2 separate regions of the Homo sapiens genome follow, and region 1 is linked to region 2. The links come from fine-mapping of genetic effects on gene expression. Tissue or cell type: transverse colon. Region 2 holds a variant in brackets; the other region holds the start of a gene. All regions are shown on one strand. Distances are from middle to middle.

Region 1 (7,440 bases), 37 kb after region 2:
ATGTACTCTTTTGTGTCTGGCTTCTTGGACTTATGATTATGTTTTTGAAGATTCATCAAGGTTGCATTTATCAGTAGTTTGTTCCTTTTCATTATTGAGCAATATCTCATAATATCTATTCCTCATTTGATAAATATTTGGGTTGTTTAAAGATTGGGGCTATTGTGAATAGAGCTGCTCTGAATATTCATATATGGTTCTCTATATGGACAAATGTTTTAATTTCTTTTTGGTAAGTACCTAAGGGTGGAATGACAGGGCCATATGGTAAGTAAATGTTTAACTTTTGACAAATCTACAAAAAGCCTACTGGAATTTATTGCTCTTAATCTGTAGGTAAATTTGGGGAGAATTGCTCTAGTAACAATATTGAGTTTTCCAATTCATGAAAACAGTTTATACCTCTCAGTTTGAATTTATGGAGAGTTGGTTTTATTTACTTTAAGGTGGGTCTTGAAAAGCCTGGGCTTTTTACACCACGTTCCTCCTTTTTACTGGAACTCAAAACCTACAAACTCTGTTTCCTCCTTCAGTGAGCAACAGATTAAATCTCTACTTATTCAGCAGTTGTTCTGTGCTACACTTTGTGGAGTCTCCCTTGGATACACAGAGCTCAGGGATCAGTCAAAGATTTGAGAGTAGATTTCAGGGCTTTTTCTTCTAAGGCCTTTCTCCTGGAATTTCCCTGGTCAATTGCCTTGAACTCCATCCTGTGACATCTCCAGGCTGCAAGTCTGCAGTTTTCTGCTTGAATTCAAGTTGCTTTGCACAGTACACACTGAGGTATATTGTCAGGATAAGAGCCCTTAAAGCTGGCTCCCACGCAGCATGATTCCCTACTTTTAAGTGTCAAATTCCCTCTAGTTTCTGCCAGTTTTTGGCCTTTTTCTAGTGCTTTCATATCATTTTTTAAAATGTATTTTTTTCCAGAGTTTAATACTGTTCTATGAGAAATATTAGTCTCATCTAAGCCACTCTGACATTTTTTGCAGCTGGAACTTCCTAGTCCATTTATATTTCATATTATCGTTGATATATCTATGTAATTTTATCTTACTATTTGGTTTTTATTTGTCCCACCTTCTCTATTTCTATTCCATTTTCTCCCTTTTTGACTTTTTTTTTTTTTTGAGACAGAGTCTCACTCTGTTGCCCAAGTTGGAGTGCAGTGGCACTATCTTGGCTCACTGCAACCTCTGTCTCCTGGGTTCAAGCAATTATAGTGCCTCAGCCTCCTGAGTAGCTGGGATTACAGGCGTGAGCCACCACACCTGGCCAATTTTTTGTAGTTTTAGTAGAGACGGGGTTTCACCATGTTGGCCAGGCTGGTCTCGAATTCCTGACCTCAAGTAATCTGCGTGCCTCAGCCTCCCAAAGTTCTGGGATTACAGGCATGAGCTACCGTGCCCGGCCCCCTTTTTGACCTCTTGTGTATTAGTCAAAAACTCTAAAATTATTCTATTTCCATTCTCATTTAGCTTGTTATAAAAACTACTTTAATAATTTCTACTCTATTTTGGAAATTTCAATATGCATCTTTGACTTAATGAAGTCTAATATAAATTGGTACTTTTACTAATTATTAGGAAATGAGGGACCTTAGAAAACTGTACTCCATTTACATTTAACTCTTTCACATTTTCTTGCTATAGTCAGGCATTTCAGTTCTAGAAATATTTATTTTATTTCTTTTAGAGATGGAAAAGAAATATGCTGCCTAGGTTGGACTGGAACTACTGGGCTCAAGTGATCCTTCTACCTTAGCCTCCCATGTAGCTGGGACTATAGGCACTCACCACTGACTGGTTTAATTCTAGGAATATTTAAAACACCACAATATATTATATATAATACATATATATATATATATATATATATATATATATATATATAAAATCCTTGTTCATTTATATTTGTACATTTAGTTTCCTTCTTTTTCATTCTTCTTTGCCGTTCTCTACTGTCATTTGGGAGAATTTATCTTCTGCTTCAAGAACTATCTTTAATATTCTGTAAGACATCTTCTAGTGACAAATTCTCAAGGTTACATTTTAAAAAATCTTATTTTGCTTTCATTTTGAGGGTTTCTTTTGCGGGCTATACAATTCTAGATTGACAAGTGTTATTTATTTATTTTTGTTTTTGGTGGTTAAAAGCATCAGCACTTTGAATATGTTACCTCATTTTCCTTCTATTTCCCTAACTGCCCTTTGTTCCTCTCTTGCTTTCTCTCTAGAATCTAGATCTCTCAACCCCTCACTGCCCCAGTTGCTCTCTGACGCTTAACAGATCAAATATAACATCCTCTAGCTTTTCTAGTTGCTCTCAAAAGGAGACTATAAGCAAGTCTACTATTTTGGGAAACATAAATTTTATTTATAATTATAAATATAAACTATACACACATCTATGTATATGTGTTTATGTGTGTGTGTATATATATATCCATATATATGCACATTCTATATGTTTTTCTTTTTATTTCATTTTCCAAACAAATATCTGTGGCTGATGTGTAGAAATGCAAGTGCTTTATTTTAATAGTGCTTTTATATAGGCACACATAGAGAACAAAGATGATTAGAAGTGGCCATATTGGGTACGTTTGCCTTGTTTTCATAGTTAGTTTCAACATTTTACTATGTGTAATTAAATATATGATGTTGGATTTGTGATATTTGCTTTTCTTAATGCCTTCTATTAGATTGAGGAAGTTCTCTTTTAAGAAAGTTTGTGAAGTGTTTCTATTACTAATGGAAGTTGAGTTATTGACAAAGGCCTTTTCTGATTCATTGAGGTAATTATATGAATTTTTAAACTTTTATGTTTAAATGTGATGTATTACATTCGTATATTTTCTAAAGCTAAACAATCCTCCTGTTATGGACTTAAGCTGAACTAGGTCACAATATAGATTGGATCTTTATACATAACTCTGCTGTGCTATGTAAGAGTACAAATTAACATGATCGTTTTGAAAGCAGAATGGCAATATTTCTGTTAGTTTGTGTTTATCTATGCCCTATGTCCAAGCAATTCATTCTGGATACATCACAGAGGACTTCTCAGTCAGGTCCATAAAGAATCACATACAAAGTTTGTTTTCAGTTGATTATATGTATAGCTGTAATTGTAGGGAATTAAATAGACTTTAATATGTATTACTATGAAATGGTTAAGAAACATGTAGTGGATGTGTATTGTGGGATACTATCCAACAGTTAGATACAACTCACTAGATTTACCTGTAATATGAAGAGCTCTTAAAAACAGCTCTAAGTGAAGAAAGAAATAAACATAAATCTTTATCACATTTTTATGTAAATTAAAAATATACATACAAAGCACAATACATGGATACACACATACTCAAAGACAAAAATTAAAAAAGAATCCTTCCTGCTTTTCTGGCTTTGTTTATGACTCATCCTACTGCCCACCTGGGGTGGCCTGCCCCTGCACCAATCTAGACTCTATAGTCAGTGAATCCCCAGCTCAGGGGCAATCTCTACAGGAAACTTTCCAGCATAACTCTAGACCACAACGATCTCTCCCGTATTTTGAATTCCTGTGACATATTCATACATTTTCCACCCAAACAATGTCATACATAAAACAAGGCAAAGAAATATCAGTTGTAAACAGGTATTTTTGATGTCCTTCTTCCTCTCTCCAACTAGATGTTAGGTTGAGTGACTGTATCCATGCTTGCTTCCCACAAAGCACTGGGGACTTTTGCTGGTTGGTTATTAGAGAAATATTTTATCTTGATGCTGTCTCACCGTCAAAACCAGCCTATCCTTGTCAGTAAGAGAGGCTCTCACTATCAGTTTTTTTTTTTGTTTCCCACACTTTCTTCTGAGCTTTCTCCCTTTTCTTATCTTTCTCTGACTTGAGAGAACCCCTCAGCAGACACAGTCTTTCTAATTTCTTTTGCTTTGTTCTTCCCTGCCCTCCACTGACCACTGGCAAGATTAGAAATAGAGAAAGGCAGTCTCCATAGTTTTGCTTACTCACCTGTTTTAATGATCTCTCCTATCTGGGTGGCTGGAAAAGTACCTGTGAGTTCTTAACTGGCTCTTGTGGCTGTGTAAAATGTTTTTGTTCCTTGTCTGTGAACACATTTATTTTCATCAGTCTGTTTTCCTCGTAAATTGGCTTATCTTGGGGTGGAGATTTGAAGAGGCAATAAACAGTAGTACAATTAACTGACAATTAGATAATTCCACAGCCTCTGTTAACTGGGTGTTACTCGGGTATTCTTTGAGATTCCTTCTCTCTCCATGTTACTGGTGACCCTTGGGAATGGAAAACCTCTTAGTTCTGAAACAGCTGTGGTCCTTGAAGTCATAGTGTAAAAATACCCCAAGTGACTCTATGGATAGGCTTTCCTCAGAAAATCTGAAGTCTCACGACAACTCCAAACAAGAGAACAAATTGTCAGTGGACACCATGCAGAGAACTGGTGGGTGATTGAGAATTCTTTTTTTTTCTTTTTTTTTTTTTTTTGGACAAGGTTTTGCTCTGTTGCCCAGGCTGGAGTGCAGTGGCGTGATCATAGCTCACTGCAACCTCGAACTCCTGGGCCCAAGCCATCCTTCTGCCTTGGGCCTAGGGGCTACAGGTGCATGCTGCCACACCTGGCTAATATTTTTAATTTGTATTTTGTAGAGATGGGGTCTTACCATGTTGCCCAGGCTGGTCTTGAACTCCTGGGCTCAAGTGGTCTGTCTTCCTCGGCCACCCAAAGTGCTGGGATTACAGGCATGAGCCACTTTTCCCAGCTGGATCTTTTATCGGTTTGAAAAGGATATCTAATAAATGGGGAAGGACTATTTGCTCTGAGTTAGGGAAAGGGGATATGGTTCATTAACTCGTCATTATCATAAACATTATTTAATTCACCAATACAGTAAATGTTGCTGTAACTTCTGCTATGCCAAATGCCTGTAACATGAAAGGGAATATATGGGTGTATATGAATAATTAGGCCTATTAATCCTTCTTTCCCCTCTAACCCCTGGTCACCACTGGTTTTCTTACTGTCTCCATGGTTTTGACTTTTACAGAATGTCACATAGCTGCAATCATACAGTGTGTAGCTGTCCCAGATTGGCTTTTCTCTTAGCGATACGGATTTCAGTTTCTCTGTCTTTTTGTGGCTTGATAGCTTATTTCTTTAGTGCTGAATAATATTTTACTGACTACATATTGGAGACCTTTCTCTCATGCCTCATGCCCTTCCCTCTGGAACCTTCATATTTGTCATGTGACTGTTACTTCAGCTCTGTAACATAAATCTAACTTCATCTCTCTTTCTAAGCCTGGATGCCCAGACCCTGTGCCAATTTGTAAGATTTAGTTTTGAAGATCACAAGTATTATTAGTACTGTGCTAAGTACTCATAGGATTAAATGAATTAATACATGTACAACATTTAAAAACAGTTTCTGACACTTAGTTTAAGCACTAAATAATTAGCAACTACTACTATCACCACCCCAACTACTACTATTTATGCATGGGAGTAAATTTTGAGATTGGCTTTTTTCTCCCACTCAGCGTAACGTCCACGATGTCCATCCAAGTTATTGCATGTGTCAACAGTTCATATGAACATATTGCCTCACTCACAATTAGGCAATATTGTTTGTTACCTTGGTTTCTTTAACCAATATTGTTTCTAAAACCTACTCCTCACTACTCAATTTGTTTCTTATCTTGTAAAGTCTTTGGTAGCTCTTTCAGAGGGGACCAGTATTAGACTGAGTACATATTTTTTCTTCCTAAATAGATGATAAATTTACTTGCTATAGAATTAGGTGAAAAATATTTTTCTTCTTAGCCTTGAGGATACTGTTTCATTCTCTTCATGCATCCAATGTCATTTATGAAATGTCTGATGTCAAAGTTAGTATAATTGTGAATCTTTGTAGCATTTTTCTCTTCATCCTTGGTATTATGAAATTTTATGCAGATCTTTTTATCTTCATCATGTTTGGCGCTTTTAATGGCCCATTAGACCTGAGATCTAATATCTGTTAACTTTTCTTTCATAATTTTGATCACACTTTCCTTTTATTCTGTATTCTGCAAGAATTCTTGAGTTAACATTTTATTTCTCCAGTTTATTGTTTTCATTTTGAACTTTAGTGTGTCCCTCAAGTTTTTCTTTATTTCACGTATCATATTTTAAATTTAACAAATATCTAGTTAACTCTAAGTATGGCTGCAATATCCTCTCACATCAGTCTGGTAATTAAACACACTTATTCTAAATTCTTGTATCAACTGTCCTTTTAACTTTGTTTTCTTGGCATGTCAATTTCTTCTGATTATTGTGCTTTATGCCTCTCTTTCAAGTGTTAGTCTCTTTCAAATGATTGGTAATTTTTGGTTATGTGTTCATCTTTGCATTTGAAATTTTCTGCTAGCCTCCCTGTAAATGTTGGGTTTATTTATTGCATTTTCTTCTGGGAGAGTGGTTAGAAATATTTCCTGGTGCTGAGTGCCAATATCCAGTCTTCTGAGAGTCCATGCTCTCTTCTTCCCTCTTGGGGATTATGCACAGCACTGCTCTGTCTTCCCAGCCCTTGCACACATTCTCAGTGCTTCCATATGATATGTGGAGAGGTCATACCTCATGGCTGTCTCTGTTAAACTCTGTGTCCACCTTTACTGATTTCAGTAGGAATCATAGGAAAAGACAGAAATACTATTATTTTACATATTTCTCATCAGGATATCCAACAAGTTCTGTTTGATATCAAACATAAATCCTGGGACTATTTAATTATGCCATTTTCCTAGACTCTGTAACAACTTTCACAACTGCATCTGTAATCTCTCTTATTTATTACTATCCAGAGTCAAGTTGACTTTACAGAAGTAAATTATCTCTTTCAGTCGTTGTATCCAATCACACAAGCTAAAGGAAAAAGTATACTTAATGACTCATATGAGTGGGAAGTCTTAGGAATTAATCTAGCTTCAGATAAGGCTCGATCTGTGGTTCAAACAATGTAATCAAGCTTCTCTCTAAGCCTGTAGGCTCTCCTGTCCTATTTTCTTAGAGATGCTTGCTCTCAAGATAATGCAGCAAGATAGTCCTAACATGCTTAAGCCATACATGGTCGTTGGTGTTCAAGATCTCAGAATGAGAGAGACCCATTTCTTTTCAGAATTTATATTAAGTCACAGAAAAAAACCAACAACTCTAATCAACTGTGCTAGTACCAATCACTTATGAAGGGTTTGGGGGAAGAGTGTTTTGATGAACCAGTAGGCACCAAAAATAGGCAAAAATCACATGATTGAGAGTCTCAGAGTCTCAGTAGCATGCTATAAAGTGGGGAAGGTACAGTTCTCCAGGAAAAGAGGGGCCCTCTTTCTGGAAGTAGGAATATTAGTCACAATTCAGCAAGAGATGTTCAGTACAAG
Region 2 (8,923 bases):
TAGCCAAAGGGCCACATGGAATATTTCAATGAAGGAAAATCCTATCTTTAAAGAAGATGCTGCCAGCTACCAGCCTCAGGTGAAGACTGGAAAAATAAACCTTGACAAAAAGGGAATGTTTTTACTGTATGTAAGAGCACCTTGTTTTTGTGAATGGGGTTCTTGTCTGGATGTCTGAAGATCTTTTGGATATATTTGGAAATTGAAATCTTAATTGTTGGAAACTGAATAGATAGAAGGGGGAATTGAGAAATGGGCAGACCATCACTTTGCTCTGAGGTATCCTTTGCTCTGTGGTGACACCTCAAGAGTGTCAAAAATCTTGACTCATCCAGGGAAGGGCTGTGAATTAACAGAAATGTTTTTGGGGAATAAAAAGGAAGCTTTTAACTCTGTGTTTGCAAATTTACTTACCTCAGCCCAGGAAGGTTAAATGTAAGTTAATTTGCACTTATATTGGATACAAGGTGAGAGAACTAGAAATTAATTTCTTGAGTTTACTGTGAAATTTTGAACATTTACATATTCATGCTATAAAGAAGTATTCCCTAGTTAATTTCATGCAAAGTGACAGCTTTTTCAACCTATTTAGCATATCAACAAACCACTTTTATTAGTAATGACAGGTGTATTAATAACAGGGACAAGATTTCCAGATTTCCTTTTCTTATAAGACCACAACCATTATTAACCCCAAGAACAAAACCAGAATGTCTAGGCATAATGTGACCAATTGACCCCACAATTTTGAGAAACACAGCCACACACGTTTTATGAGCCTTTTATATGACAAATGTTAAATTTGGATAACCATTTTTCAAATTATACATATTTTTCTAAAGATACTTTACAGAAAATGCTTTCCCCCCGTTTGGCAAAAAGGTTCATTCTGTGAGCCCACTGAATTCGTATTAATAATAAAGTACATTTCACTATCATATGCTGTTCTCTCATTGGTTCTATCCCATTAACACTTATTCCTGGTTGTAGATTCTGGAGCTTTCTAAAGAGATGGTAAAACCTCTCTCTAAAGAGATGGTAAATGTTTTAATAAAGTTCTCTTTGGGGGAAAAAGAAGCAAAACTTAGTCTCTTTCCTCAAGATGTTTACAAGCTATTAGAGATAACAGATACTTTTAAAAATACATGTTTTTGTTTCTTTTATGGAGTAAATGACAAAACACTGTGGAAACATTATTCTTTCCCGGGGTGTCAGGGAAAGCTTCACAGAAGAAAATAATTCAATCTGGTTTTAAAGGGTGATTGGGAGTTTGACAGGTGGAAGGAGGGGCAGGAGGGCATTCTAGTCAGAAGGAGCAGCGTGTAGAGTGGTGCAGAGGCTTCAGAGACTGATGTATTTGAACACGTATTTGTCTTGTGTGTGGGACATTTAAAGAATTTTGTGTATGTATCTTTTATTTTTTATTGCATACATTTAAGGTATACAGTGTGATGTTTTGATATACATATGCATAGTGAAATGATTACTGTAGTCAGTATATTAACATATTCCTCACTGCACAATTACCTTTTGTTTGTTTGTTTGTTTTTTGAGACAGAGTCTCGCTCTGTAGCCCAGTCTGGAGTGCAGTGGTGCCATCTCGGCGAGCTTGCCCGCTAATTTTTTTTTGTATTTTTAGTAAAGACGGGGTTTCACTGTGGTCTCGATCTCCTGACCTCGTGATCCTCCCGCTTAGGCCTCCCAAAGTGCTGGCATTACAGGCGTAAGCCACCGTGCCTGGCCACAATTACCTTTTTAATTGAGGTAGAATACCTAAAATCTAGTCTCTCAGCAAATTTTCCATATACAATATTAACTATAGTTCTCATGCTGTACATTAGCTCTCTAGACATTCATCCAATAGAACTGCAAGTTTGTACCCTTTGACCTACACCTCCCTGTTTTCTCTTCCTCCCAGCCTGGATAACTACCATTCTACCCTGTTTCTATGTGTAGTTTTTAAGTTCCATATATAAGTGAGATCAAGCAATATTTTTCTTTCAGTATTATTTCTTTCCTTCAATATTGTTATTTTACTTAGCGTAACGTCCTCCAGGTTCACCCATGTTATTGCAAATATAGCAGCATCTCCTTTTGTAAGGCTGAATGATATTCCATTGTACATATATACTGCAAATTATTTATCTGTTCATCTATTGATGGGCACTTATGTTGTTTCTCTGTCTTGGCTATTGTGAATAATGCTGCAGTGAGCATGAGAATGCAGATATCTCTATGAAGTGCTGATTTCATTTCCTTTGGGATACTCAGCAGAGGGATTGCTGGGTCATATGGTAGTTCTGTTTTTAGGGGAACTGCCATACTGTTTTCCATAATGGCTGTACCAACTTACATTCCCACCAAGAGTGTATGAGAGTTCCCTTTGTGTGTGAAAATATTACCATCTCCTCATTTTTAGCAGGCACCTATATATAATGATGACTTCCAAATTGAGCATCTTTCTTACAGATCTCGCTCCTTCATAGGTGGTGTTGTATACTTTACATTGCATCAAATCATGTAGGACATAATGACCAGTTGTCCTGCTGTTACAAAGCTTTAAAATTAATAAAGCTAAGTTTGAGCAGTGGATTCAGAAGTGACAGCCTGCTATATCCATAGTAAAGTTCCAATCAAACCTTTTAAAAAAGTTCATTCACTGATGATCTCTGCCTTATTTACTTATTTGAGTAGAAGTTTTTAAATGGTGCTTTCCTAATTCTGTCGTTCTTTCTGTATTCATTAGCTGTAATTCTTCCAAAAAGAAGAAATTTCCTTTATCTATTAGGGTTATTGATTTTCTCTTTAACAGGAAAGAGGATAAATGTTCATATATTTCCCTTTTGTTGCCAATTTTCAAAATAAGGGTTTACCCAACTCCACTTACGACACATGAGAGATTTTGCTTTTATTCTTGCATGTCTCTTTTTGTATTGCTATGACCTCATGGATTTTATATATTATGTATTTCAATTAACTGCAGTCATTAGTCTTTTTGATGCTAAAACTAATCTATCTATGGCCAATGAAGAGACTCCTTTGGGTTACCTCCTCTGTTCCATGATATGATTCCATTTGTCTTTGATTATTTGCTTTCTGGCATAACAAGATGTCCAGGCTCATGGTATACATATTTTCTGTTCCAGTCCTGGAATCAGCCTTCCCTTCAAGGATGCCTCTTTTCTTTTATTGAGGAAGGGTTCTTAGACATCACAGTTAGGGTGCTCGGAGTGATTATTGCTAATGGGTTATCATTGCTCCTAGGCCTTTTCAATAGACAGAGCTAGGAAATATCTATATTGGAAATAGAAAGCATCATGAATTTGTACAGATATTTTCAAATCAGCTTAATAACATGGCTTTTAAAAAACTTTTT[T/A]AATATTTTAAACGAGCATCAGAACCAGGCATGGTATAGTCATTCTTCATGAATGATTCTCTTGGTTTTGCATCCCTTATCAGTTGTCATTGTCCTTACATAGCCTTCCTCCCCAAACAGATTCTTTTAAATTTATTTTCCTTAGTTCCTAAAATGAGTAAAACTTACTTTACAATACATGTGGGATTATGTGCAGAGATTGGTTCCTAGTGATTTTGTATAGTATTTATCCCTTAGCAAATGTAGTTTAAGAACATGTTAATCTGATTTCCAATCACATGATCAGGTGGGTGGATAGTGTCAGTGCCATATGCAATGGTCATGTCCCAGGCATCAATGATGCCCACGTTGAGGTCTTTGAAAATATCCTTCATGATAAGATAGTGAATATAACCATGGAAGTCTCCAAACCTCTCTGTCTCTATGTGCATCTCCCTGATGTTTTCTGTCTTAATAATCACTTTAGTGGCTGGGCTTCTTAGGAACAGTCTTTCAATAGCCTTTTGAACACCGATGGCCCTGCGAATAAAAATGTCAATGGGAAATGGTCTAAAGTGCTGGCCAAAGGTGATGACGATGGCTGTGTTTTTGTCACCTGATAGCCGGTCAATTTCCCGAGGGATATAATCATGATCTATCAGAGAGTAGAGCTGGAAAGTGACGAAGGGATAGCTATGTTTTTTCCATTGAATCTGAGTGTGTCTTTCTGCATCCAGAAGCAAATGTTTCTTAAAGATTCCAGTTTCATGAAGATCAAAAAACTTCAGTGCTGATAAAAAAACAAATAGATGTTTTAAATAGAAGATAATGGTTAATATTCATGAAAAAGAATGTCCTATCATTTAAAATACCCACCCTACCTAGATAATTGCTCACTGGAGCCTTTCTACTCTCTAGGGTACAGTACCCCCAGTTCATACATGTAAAATGTCAATCAAAAATGTAAAGTTTTCACTGGAATTTTAAAAGAAGACCAACATTTCTTATGAAAGAAGGAATAAAATACATTTTAAATGTAAAGGTTCAAATCCAGAGAGCCAAATGAAGTAAAAAACAAAATAGCTCAAACGAGAGAATAGAGACCTCATTAAAAGTACTTTAAAACCAGCCTGAATTTCTAAGAGAATATAAAGTAACTACCTACTTTTTACAACTTTGGGGAAGTAGTAGATCCACTGACGTAGTGTAGAGTCTCCCAGGAGGTAAATGAGTTTGCCTTTCAAACAGCCATTTATCTTAATTGTGTCTAACTGAACCTGGTTGCAAAATGTTGTTATCCATTTTCCTTGTAAAGTATAACCACCAGGGACAGGAGGCTTCATTCCAACTTGGCATGTCTCTTCTATTTTTTCTCTCTCTGGTAACAAAGACACTCGTAAATGATTTTATTGGCAAAACTTAGACATCTAGCCTTCTTTCCTGGTCTTTCATTTTCTTGCTCTCTTTCCCCCTTCCTGTAATGCCTATTTCCTTTTTCTGTCCCTTTCTAGTCCTATTCTTTGATCATTAGCTTTGCTTCAGGCACTTCTGCTTATTCCTTTAAGAGATTTTGAGTCATCTTGCCTTCTGTCTAATTCCTTTCCTCCTAAATTTGGTCATGAGCTAAATCTTGACGTTCTATCCTTTCTTTGACGTTCTATCCTTTTTTCCTGACTCTGTGGTGACTTCTGTCTTTGTCTCTTACCCAAATGATGTTAGTGGTCTGCCAGTTGGTGCCGCTGTATAAAATTCTTTACCTTTGTTTCATTAATGAAGGAATGAATAATCTTAATTTTTCCGTGTTCAAAAAATGGCTTAAAATATGTACATTAAATATAAAAACCTCAAATAGTATAATAGTCACCTAGCTTGACAATTTTTTGTAAAACCAGACTTTGCTAAAAGCAACATGCAACATCCAATACAAACCAATATTCTGAGATAATCCAGGAAGTTTCACTAGAGTTTCAGGCTCTGTTTGCACATGGTCTGCCTTCTATTACAGGTAGGTAGCAGTGAAGCAAATGTCTTGTTATGGCATAACAAAGGGCATCCAATTTCTCCTGTCATGTTTCCTTACCACTCTCTATGCTGCCATCCCATCACTGAGCCAATGCCTTGTATTTTAGGATTTGTTATATCAGGACTTCTATACTGATACTACGTTCTGTATGAGATAGGAAACCAGTTTGAATGCTGTAAGAAAGACCAAGATAATAATGACTTAAAAATAAAAGATTATTTCTGTCTCACATAACAGGCCTGGAGTGAGAAGGCCAGGGCTAATATGCCATTGCATGGTGTCAGGGACTCTTGTTCCTTCTATGTTGTGGCTATGACATTCTTACTGTGTGGCTTTAATCTCATGGTCTAACTTGGCTCTTGCTGTTCTCACATTATATCTAAAGTTCGGCTAGTAGTAAGGGAAGAAATGGATAGGGAGGGCCAGTTGTTTTGCTTTTAAAGCATGACCTAGAAGTTTCCCACTTGCACTTCTGGAAAAAACTTAGTCATGGCCACAACTAGATATAAGAAAGGATAGCCATGGGTCTAGCCACAACTGGTTTCTATTACTAAAGAAGGAGAAGGCAGTGAGTATTGGGGAACCATCAGCAGTTTCTGCTTTACCCTCCTTGCTTAGTTCCTCAGAGGCCTTGCAGTCTCTGGCTGCCTATGTCCACAGAATAGTGCATCATTACATGGTTGTATTGTATTTGTAACCTATGGACAAAGTGGTAAAATGGTGCTGGTGGCAGAATTGGAAAGTGCACTTGGAATAGCTCTTAAGTCCTGGTGATTTGGCTTACTAAAGGGAGTTTGTATAATCCTATAATTATGTTGGAATTACAGTGTGATATTGATGGGTTTCTATGAGGCTTGATAGCATTGCACCCTAGATGATTGAATACCATGACCCTGGAAACTTGAGATTCATAGTTATTAAGTATTCTTTATCCTAATAATGTACTGGCACACTTTGCTGAGAACATAGCCTTTAAGTGTATTGTTGTAAACCCTATGTTGTGTAATCTTTATGTGTCAGGTATTCATTTTGCCACGTCTCAAACTTATAACAAATTTGCTTATGATTACTCTTACATGTTTATTTTACTTAATAGTTTTAGAATAAGCTTGAGCATTTTGAACAGTATGTGGGTAATAATATCAGGATTCTGTATATCAGGCAAAAGCAACTCCATTTTAGATGCTAATCTGCTATGTTGGCTCCTGATTAACCCCGGTTTATCTAGTGTTTCTTGTATAACAGCAGATAATTATGGTAAATCTTGCCCGTAGGTCAAACAGCCTTGGTGGTATTGTACTTCAATTGTCCTGTACATCCCATCTGAACCACCCTTCCCTTATGCTCTGTAAGCCCTAGATCTGGGGGTAATGGTGTGGAGATCCACCATCTTGTCTCAACAATGGAGACATAAACATGGCTTCTGCTTGTAAGTCCCTACTAAATGTTTCGAGAAACTGGATGTGTCAGACTCTTTTTTGGCCTCTCAGCTTCCTCAAACTTTGGGAGTAGGTTTGCATAGACCTGCCCACTGAGAAATAGATTCCATTATATTTTTTATTAGATAGGGAGACTAATAGTCCCCCAAAGATATCCACATCCTAATTCTTAAAACCTGTGAATATGTTGAAGCAGAAGATATAAAAAGAAAAACAAGTTTTCCTGTACTAGGCTGACCCACTCTAAGACCCAGGGAAGGGCAGGGCTCTGATGAGGCTTTGGTAGCATTATCTGCAGAGCCGGGTCCCAGAAGGGATGGGCTTCAGAGTCTCTCCCTCCCATCCCAAAGCAAGGTTGGGAAAAACAAGTTTTTCTCATTCAGCTTCCCCCTTCCCCCCTTACTATTCTTAAAATTATCTTTGCAAGTTTTGTAAGTGCCTGTTTTTCCCTTCTGTGCAGCACAGTGAAGGTCACAACATATGCCTGAGTTGCAACACCTGGCTTGAGTTGTAAAACCTGTCACTGTTTGATAAACTGCCTTTGTTCTGCTTCTGTAAGCTTGCTTGCCCGCCCTGTAGGTTTTGCACCATTTAGTGAAGTGTATATTCAAGCTAGCCAATACCCTTTCAGGTACATGTATAAGAGTCAAGCCCTGTCTTTGTTCGGGGCTCAGCCTTTGGAAGTTAATCCACTGGGCAGGTAGCCACCTAAATAAAATCCTCTTATTCCATCCATTGGTCTCTCCTGTCCCTTAATTCCCACAACAATGTTGCCTTTTCCAGTTATGACCAGGGTATGGCCTTTGAGATGGAGAGACTATCCTGGATTACATGGGTAGGCCCAATCTAATGTCATTGGTCCTCAAAAGTGGAAGAGGGAGGCAGAAGAGTGGGTCAAAGATGTGACAGGAAAACTTGACCCTCTGCTGTGGCTTTGAAGATAGAGGAAGAGGGCTGCAAGGAATGTGGGCAGCCTTAAAAACCTGGAATAAGCAAAGGAACAGATTCTCCCCTGGAGCCTCCAGGAAGGAACATGCTCCTGCTCTACCTTGGGATTAGCTCAATGAGACCAGCATTGGACATCTGGACTACAGACTATAAGATGATATATTTTTGTTTTTTAAAGCCACTTTATTATAGCAGCAATAAGAAAATGATACATAGACAACTGACATTCTTTTAAATATAAAATCATCCCATCTAGAGACAGTATTTTTTCCTTCTATTTATATGAATTTTATTTTATATTCCTTAGTGACATTTTAAATTGCCTTTCTGCAGATCATGCTTTTGTTAAATTGTGAATTTGCATTTTAAACCACAAAGTGGATCATACCACTCTCTTCCTCAGTTGGTTTCTGTGGCTTTCAAGTCTACTGAATAATCACTGAAATCCTCAGCATGACACTTGAGAACCTTCATGATTAGGTTCTTCCTCTCTTTCTAGGCTTATCCTCTGCTGCATTCCACAATATGCTCACCCCATTGGCCTATTGAAGAAGTCCATGATGACTTTGCTCATGACGGGAATTATCAGGTAAAAAGAGTTAGATAAAAAATACAGGACACCGTATTAAATTTGTATTACTTCTAACAAGGAATAATTTTTTAGTGTAAGTATGGTCCATGCAATATTTTCCCCTTTTCTCAATGTATATATGACAGGCAATTAGAAATTACTCATATTCATTTGATTCCCTGTATTATTATTTGCTTAAATCCAGCAACACTACCCATGATCTTTATGAGGTTTCTCTTCTTCATTCTCTGACTACACGTATCCTTCAGGACTCAGTCAAATACCAACTTTAACATAAGCTCTTTTGCCTCTTTACTGTCTTCATAGAGTTCGTAGATTGAATGTCTTTCACATTGCAAGCTAACTGAGCATTTACTTTTCTCCATTTGTCCATAATGCCTGATATCTATTCAGTGCTCAGTAAATGTTTGCTGATCCTTTTGTAGTTCAGAATCATGATGATTGGGTTTTCATGCTCATGTGTGAGATGTGCCTCCCTCAAACCTTGTTATGACATCAGCACATTACCCATATGATGTGAGGAAAAATAAATAAATAAACATTTGTGGAATAAATGAATAAATGGT

Which allele goes with the higher level. Positions count from the first base shown, and alleles are read on the strand shown. Sizes are in standard deviations (SD) of each study's normalised expression.
In carriers of allele T in region 2, the expression in transverse colon of the gene that starts at base 4,101 in region 1 tends to be higher than with A alone (large effect, 1.6 SD a copy in CEDAR).

Evidence for each region. PIP is the estimated chance that this variant, and not a neighbour inherited with it, causes the effect.
Region 1: NXPE1 starts here. The variant in region 2 is fine-mapped to the expression of NXPE1 in transverse colon (CEDAR, PIP 0.95).

Annotation. Positions count from the first base shown.
Region 1 is chr11:114,555,781-114,563,220 of GRCh38, forward strand. NXPE1 (neurexophilin and PC-esterase domain family member 1) reads right to left here and starts at 4,101. Exons shown (of 9, transcript NM_001395504.1): 1 at 4,018-4,101. It also overlaps a transcript of NXPE2 not described here.
Region 2 is chr11:114,518,359-114,527,281 of GRCh38, forward strand. It overlaps NXPE1 (neurexophilin and PC-esterase domain family member 1), which reads right to left. Exons shown (of 9, transcript NM_001395504.1): 8 at 4,521-4,733; 9 at 576-4,145. The coding sequence ends at 3,610. LOC124902825 (small nucleolar RNA U13) reads left to right here and starts at 8,771; the gene lies at 8,771-8,874. It also overlaps a transcript of NXPE2 not described here. The variant T/A (reference allele first, on the strand shown) is at 3,377.